Linked DNA regions of Homo sapiens. The protein of the gene in region 1 interacts with the protein of each later gene in a pairwise test. Each region holds a gene or a part of one and is shown on either strand. Other genes may lie near its edges.

Region 1 (3,500 bases):
TCCCTAAGGGGCTGGATTCTGCCATCTCCAAGGAAGAAGAGCAGAGAAAGAGGGAGAGGGAGAAACTTTTCTATCTCAACCCTATACATTTCACTTTAACCATAAGGAGACCTACTTCTTGCTTAAGAAATATCTAGACACAACCCTCTCCTACTTTCACACAAAAGTAACTGTTCCCCTCTAATGTAATAGTCTAGTGTAGCAAGATCAATCACAGTGTCTCTAGTCTAAATGAGTTTGTTTGTATGTTTTTCTGACTTTTCTAATTACCCAAGGTTGTTGCCCTGGCCTCTCTTTTATTCAAGGTCCCCTGTTTCTCAATAGAAGGTCTAGGTCCTCTATGACTGCAGTTTCCGAGGTAATTAAACATTTAAACAAAGAGGTCAATAACAGAAACATTGCCGACAAAATTACCTCCACTTTTCGATCTGAGGGGCAAGATGCTGGTGGGCCACTGGTCCAATCACTCGTGCCATTTATACCACAACACTGCAGCTAAAAGCCAAACCCCCAAAATGATGATGGTTAGAAAGTCAACAGTGAAAAAAAGCTGTGGACCTTAGAGGAAAAGGTGTGCCCTTCAGATCTGACTCTATAGCAGAAGTCCAGAATTGGTCTGATTGCTATGGGCTCCTTAAAACAAAGTGCTTTCTAATCTGTTATACCATTTCATTCACATAAGATCCCTGTGGAGTAGAGACCCCTGTGCTTAATCTAGTCACATTTTACAGATCAAGAATAAGGCACCCAGGGACTGCATAATGGAGGGATTAGGCTGACCACCCCTGGACCCACCAACCAATCTTAAGATCACAGAAAGGAGGACCATCAGACATTATGTACCTGCTTACACGATGCAACAGGAAGTGACAGCTATGGCAGTCTTACCACAAAACAAAAACCACATCAAACTTTTAAGTTCATGGGGCTTATGGGAGACAGAGACTCCCTGATACCAAAATACTCGAGGAAGCAACTAGCCTGATCTAGAGAGTGGAGAAGTCTAAAGGACAAATAGCCTAATTTCTTTCCACAAAGAGCAAGAACAAAGAGGTGTACTATTATAGATTAAAAGATAAATAGAGAGACCTATCATTCAAATATAAACACATAGGCCTTGTTAAGATCTTGATTTGAACAAGTCAATTAAAATTTTTTGAGAAAATTAGGGAAATTTAATTATAGACTTTATTAGTGGTATTAAGAAATTATAAAATTTTAGGTGTATTAAAAAGAAGTTCTTTTATATTTAGTGGGTGAAATAATATATTGTCTAGTATTTGCTTTAACATATTCTAACGAAAAAAGTGTGGGGAATTAGATGAGATGACACTGGAAAATGTTAACTATTGAAGAGTTGGGAGATTCATTTTTCTGTTTTTCTCTTTTGTATATTTCTAAAAATTATGTAATAAAAAGTTTTCTAAACTGAATTAAAAAAATAAAGAATTGGAGATCTAAATAAGTTAAGTGACTTCCCCAGGGCTACCCAATTCTGGTCTCCAGGCTCTAATTCCTGTGCCATTTCTTCTACTCCACACTAAGCCAGCGTGCTTTCATAGTGGTACTGTTTCGAGACACAAATAGATTATACTGGTGCAAGGCTCCATCTTTATCTCCCAACACATCATGTCAGGAATGCAGAGCTTGTATATGCTGTACATATACACGTTTGTGGGTGGAAACAGCACATGAGGAATGGGATGTTGGTGGGCTAGGTAACAAGCCTGATTTGGGCAACTCGGGAACTCAATGGCAATTTCTTGTGTTATACAATGCTGTTTTCAGTAAAATTTTGGAAAATACATAAACTAATCCAGTTTGCTGTGTTTGGGTCTTCTTCACATCCTAGCAGAACTTAGAAAATAAACCTATTCATGTTAGAAAAGGATGAAAGAGAGAATGTAGAGAACTTTGTACTAATCAGACTAATTACTGGGCTCCCATGTTTGTGATAGCCAAGGCATTATTCTGGGATTCAGGGATGTGGACCTTAGATTCTGAAACTTCCAGAAAAAGGAACTAGCCCCCAAGGATTTAGGCTTGAAAATGAAGTCTGGGCTGATCTGAAGAGGATTCCACCTGTACTCACAAATGACTGGATGGAGTCCCACGCTGCCTTGGTGCTATTGTCTGAGTGGTAACGGTGGATGCTGTCGGTCAGACCCTTAGCCACATACTCATTCAGCTGGGCAGGCACATTCCAGCAGAGGAGACATGGTAAAAAGCAGGTGAGTTCAAGGAATAAGGAATTTCCAGTATAGGTTAGTGGTTCCACTTGCGCTTCCCTTCCAAATGGTCTCCTCAGAACTAAGGGTGAGGGGAGGGTGTTTATCTATGGGCATACAGGCTGAGCATGAGGTGGCATTGAAGGAAGAAGTATTTAGTAGGCTTGCTTCCTTCTAGAGCTCTGGCTTTACAAGGGAGGAAAAGGAGCAATTAAAGCAAGGGCTATCCTTAGGCACTGAGGCAGACATTCTCTCCTGCCAAACACACAGAGGAAAGCAAGTAGAGGAAGAGACACTTGTTTTACTGCTCTTTCCAGGCACCCCTCAAGATACCACTCAGATACAATCTCTTTCATACAAATTTTCCCCCCAATTACAATTACTCTCTGTTTCCTCTATCCTTCCACTTCATTTCTATCTCTATTATAGAACTTATTCTGTAACTTTGTACCAACTTCTCCACTGCATACTCCCCACTTTCAGTATTAAGACAATAAGTTGTTGTCTTTATAACTTACCTTCTGTTCATATACAAAGAGCAGGATGGCCAAGGTCACCTCAGCAAGGAGGATAATCAGCAGCAGGATGAAGAACTGGGACAAAGCAGATACATTCTCACAGCACTGATCCCCATTCTCGTCCCACTCCCACTCAGCTCTGGGAGCATCCAGGGGCATTTGCACGAGTACAGGGTGTTCCTGTTCTGCCTCCTCAGGCCGTTGTAAGCCTTCTTTTGTTTTGTGAAAATATGTGTTCTTTTTCTACAATTAGACTCTAGAGGGCAGATCAACTGTCTTCTTTGCTCTCTCCTACCTGCTGTGCCTATCAGAGCACTACATGCATAATACATACACACCACCACCTGTTGAATAAGTTAAGCAATTTTGACATCTGCCTATTGAAGCAGTTAAGCAAAAGGTTGGTAAACTAGATCATTTGGGGCCTGGTCCTTTCTACAAGATCAGGGATACCTCTGGGTGGAGGACTGCTGGTAGTGGCTGAGAGGAGCCCTGTACAATGGTAGAAAGAAGGGTCCTAGCCATGGTTCTAACTCATATTTGTTTCCAGCTTTCGATGCTTACTCCTTTTATGCTAATAACACACAACAGAAAACATTTTCACTTATTCCTTCTCCTTCACCTTTTTTACCCCAACATTAATTTTGACTGCTTAAAACATTTGCCTTACCCCATGTCTGCTATCTTCCATCCTTTGCCATTAGTCTGACAACTATCTGAGAAGAGGGACTTTTTAAAAAATTCTTTCTCTTGG
Region 2 (4,456 bases), on another chromosome or scaffold:
AAATAGGTGAATATTGAATTTTTTTTCTAATGTTGCTTATTCATTAACAATTGACTAAGATTCTGTCCTCAGAGTTTCTCATAAAAATTAGAGCTTTTGGGCCAGGCGAGGTGGCTCACATCTGTAATCCCAGCACTTTGGGAGGCCGAGGTGGGCGGATCACCTGAGGTCAGGAGTTCGAAACCAGCCTGGGCAACATGGTGAAACCCTGTCTCTACTAAAAATACAAAAATTTGCTGGGCATTGTGGTGGGCGCCTGTATTCCCAGCTACTCAAGTGACTGAGGCAGGAGAATTGCTTGAACCTGGGAGGCAGAGGTTGCAGTGAGCCGAGATTACACCACTGCCCTCCAGCCTGGGCAACAGAGTGAGACTCTGTCTCCAAAAAAAAAAAAAAAAAAAAAAAATTAAAAAGTTAGAGCTTTTGGCAGCATTCGGCTGAAACAGGAACTCATCCAGACTTTAAGGGCCAAATGCAGAATATAAATTGGCATCTAGATGCTTAATCATCCTTCCTTTCAGCAAGTCATAATCTTCCTGCAACCTACTCCAAAGAGCCAAAGTTGCTGAAGGTTGTTGCTAGCAGTCTGTGCTGGTATAATCGGTTTTCAAAAAGGTATCCTCCAAAGTGTTCTTGCAAGATAACTATTTGAAACGTTTTTATTCCATGATAGTAGGCTTGGGAAATGTCTGCTACCCTAGCACTACGAACACAATTCACGTCAGGAACGTTTTCTGAGAAAGATATGAAATCTAATGGGAGAGAGGAACACAGAAGTATCAGAAACGAGGTGGGAGATCTAGTGAGGTGTGAGGGGGAGGAGGAAGAGAAGCTTTTCTATTTTGAGCTCTTGTATCATTTATTTTCTTTCTTTTTTTATTGATATATAATTCACAGTCCAAAAATTCACCCTTGTAAAGTGTCCAATTCACTGGCATTTTGTATCTTCATGAGGTAGTATAACCATCACCACTACATAATTCCAGAACATTCTCATCACCCTAAAAGAAAATCTTGTACCCATTAAGCAGTCACTCCTCATTTCCCACTTTCCCACCAGGCCCTTCCAACCATTCATATGCTTCTCTGTGTCTATGATTTTGTCTATTCTGGACATTTTGTGTAAGTGGATTCATACACTATGTGATCCTTTGTGACTAGCTCCTTTCTCTTTAGCATAATGTTTTCAAAGTTTGTCTGTACTGTAGCATGCATCAATGTTTCATTTCTTGTCATGGTGAAAAGCATCGTATTGTATGGATAGACCACATTTTGCTTATCCATTCTTTTTTTTGTTTTTGTTTTTGTTTTTTTGAGACGGAGTCTTGCTCTGTCGCCCAGGCTGGAGTGCAGTGGCACAATCTCAGCTCACTGCAACCTCCGCCTCCCAGGTTTAAGTGATTCTTTTGCCTTAACCTCCTGAGTAGCTGGACCTACAGGCGCCCGTCACCATGCCTAGCTAATTTGTGTATTTTTAGTAGAGAGGGGGTTTCACCATGTTGGCTAGGCTGGTCTCGAACTCCTGACCTCAGGTGATCCACACGCCTCAGCTTCCCAAAGTGCTGGGATTACAGACTTGAGCTACTGTGCCTGGCCCCGTTCTTCTTTTGATGGACATTTGTGTTGTCTGCACCTCTTGGCTAAAGCGAGTAATGGTGCTGGAACACTGTGGTAGGAGTATCTGTTTGTCTCCGCGCTGTAAATTATCTTGAGTATGTACCTAGAAGTGGATTTGCTAGGACATATGGTGACTATTATGTTCAACTTTTTGAGGAACTGCCAAATCATTTTCCATTGTGGCTGTATCATGTTATATTCCTTCCAGTAATATATGTGGGTTCCAATATCTCCACATCCTTGTCAACACTTACTTTTCTTTTTTTAAATTATAGCCATCCCAGTGGGTATTATATAATTTCTTAAAATGTACTTTTTGAGTTCAAATTTGTATCATCACAATTCTAAACAGAATAAAATATCTTTGCCGGGCGCAGTGGCTCACGTCTGTAATACCAGGACTTTGGGAAGATGAGGCAGGAGGATCACTTGAGCCCAGGGGTTCAAGACCAGCCTGGACAACTTGGTAAGATCCCATCTCTACAAAAAATACAAAAATTAGCCAGGCGTGGTGGTGTGCACCTGTAGTCCCAGCTACTTGGGAGGCTCAGGCAGAAAGATCGTTTGCGCCCAGGAGGTTGAGGCTTCAGTGAACTGTGATTGCGCCACAGCACTCCAGCCTGGGTGACAGAGCGAGACCCTGTTTCAGTAAATAAATAAAATAAAAGTAAAATATCTGTAAGCACAGGTATGATGTCCCCAGCCTGTATTTATATGCCTAAAACACACTAGAAAACGACTCTATGTTCAATCGCAATGTAGAGAATGAAGATGAATTTTATCACACAAGACTTGACTTTCTTTCTGGTGCCTGTGCCTCCATTTATGCCCCGTGTCAGGCTGTATCTTGTTGCTCACGCTGACTTTAGTAGCGTAGCAAGTTATGATTTATTCTGGCAATTTGCAAATACTGATGCAACATTTGGCCAGGATCTGTGGACATCTCAGGGTGAACCCAGTTCAGCTGATTATGGGGTCATATGAAGATGAGAATTTTGCAATAATGTACTTCTCATTTCTAGTGAATTGCTGTGTGAAAGATACCGTAGGCTGGAAAAGGGGAGAACAGAAAGGACAAGGCAAGGCTGCTGTTTCTCTGCTTCCATCTGGGGAAACTGAGAGTCCAGGAGCAGCTGTTCCTGCCCTGTTTTCATAAGTCCTTGGAGATGCACTGATAGAATTGTTGCTTATGGCCAGGCATGGTGGCTTATGTAATCCCAGCACTTTGGGAGGCCAAAGTGGGCAGAACACTTGAGCTCTGGAGTTTGAGACCAGCCTAACCAACATGGTGAAACCTCATCTCTACTAGAAATATAAAAAATTAGCGGGGTGAGGTGGCGGGTGCTTGTAATCCCAGCTCCTTGGGAGGCTGAGGCAGGAGAATTGCTTGAACCCCAGAGGGGGAGGTTCCAAAGCCGAGATTGTACCACTGCACTCCAGCCTGGGAGACAGAGTGAGACTGTCTCAAAAAAAAAAAAATTGTTGCTTTTGAGGGGTTCTCTGATTCAGCTCCACCAGAAGCAGGCTCTTAGACAGCATTAGTGTGAAAGTGACGTTTTATTTTATTTATTATTTATTTAGTTTTGAGACAGAGTTTCGCTCTTGTTGCCCAGGCTGGAGTGCAATGGCGTGATCTTGGCTCACTGCAACCTCCGCCTACCAGGTTCAAGAGATTCTCCTGCCTCAGCCTCCCAAATAGCTGGGATTACAGGCATGCACCACCACACCCAGCTAATATTCTATTTTTAGTAGAGACGGGGTTTCTCCATGTTGGTCAGGCTGGTCTCGAACTCCTGACCTCAGGTGCTCTGCCTGCCTCGACCTCCCAAAGTGCTGGGATTACAGGTGTGAGCCACCACGCCTGGCTTGAAAATTACATTTTAGGGAGTGGGGAAGAAGGGCTGGGAGGAAAATAGATTAAACAAGTGTGGGATATCTGTGTCCCTCAGATGGTATCTTTGGCTCCATCCTGCAGAAAGCAGTGGAGACAGAGAAGGTCGAAGACCAGAGGCTAGGGAGCTGGGGTCCCCACAGCCGTCAGTGGCAGTTTGTCCCGGGCATGTAAATTCCAAGGCATTTGGAGTTCTCCCAGGCAGTCCCCCAAAGAAGAGATACAAATGTTCACTTTGGAAAGGGAAAGAAGCCACGATCTAGAATGCATAAAAATGGGAAAGGGATCTGGGGAACATGGGTTGAGGAACATTGACAGAATCTATTACAGAGAGAGATGGGTGTAGGTGGAATATTGGGTGAAAAAAAATCATCATTATACCTACAATCCCATTATCCGACACAATGAGTCAGTTTCTAGACTGAGCGCTTTAAAGCCAGGATTTTTCATCATTACCTAACTCTTCAAGTTAGATATTATTAGCTCTCTGCCCCCTCCTTATATTTAACCAAAAAATAACGTATTCCAGAAAGGGAAGGGAACATTTACAAAGTCAGGAGGTAGGAGACCCAGTACTAGAACTCAAATATGTCTTGTTTCAAACTCCCCACTCCTTTTGCTGCTCCCTGATGATCAGCTCAGAAAGAACCTTATTTCAGGGAGGGGGATAGATAGATAATTAGATGTGATAGATAATAGGCAAGTAGGCAGATAAATAGATAACTAGATATGATAGATTAGATAGATACATAGATGATAGGTAGATAAGTAGCTAGATACGATGGACAGATTAGATAGATAGACAGATGATAGGTAAGTAGGTAGATAGATAACTAGATACAACAGGTTAGATAAGTAAGTAGATAGATAACTAGATATGATAGATTAGATAGATAAATAGACGATAGGTAAGTAGGTAGATAGATACAGATAGATTAGCTAGCTAGC

Evidence for each region. The genes of interacting proteins can lie anywhere in the genome.
Region 2: the proteins of CD53 (region 1) and VSTM1 interact in binary tests that used the Homo sapiens proteins (3 or more experiments, as listed by UniProt).

The regions. Positions count from the first base shown.
Region 1 is NC_000001.11:110,893,648-110,897,147, reverse strand, and holds part of CD53 (leukocyte surface antigen CD53), read right to left. Parts: intron 2,822-3,500; coding exon 2,747-2,821; intron 2,189-2,746; coding exon 2,093-2,188; intron 496-2,092; coding exon 415-495; intron 1-414. UniProt on the Homo sapiens protein: Structural component of specialized membrane microdomains known as tetraspanin-enriched microdomains (TERMs), which act as platforms for receptor clustering and signaling.
Region 2 is NC_000019.10:54,045,942-54,050,397, reverse strand, and holds part of VSTM1 (V-set and transmembrane domain-containing protein 1 isoform 1 precursor), read left to right. Parts: intron 1-1,994; exon of another isoform or gene 1,995-2,083; intron 2,084-4,456.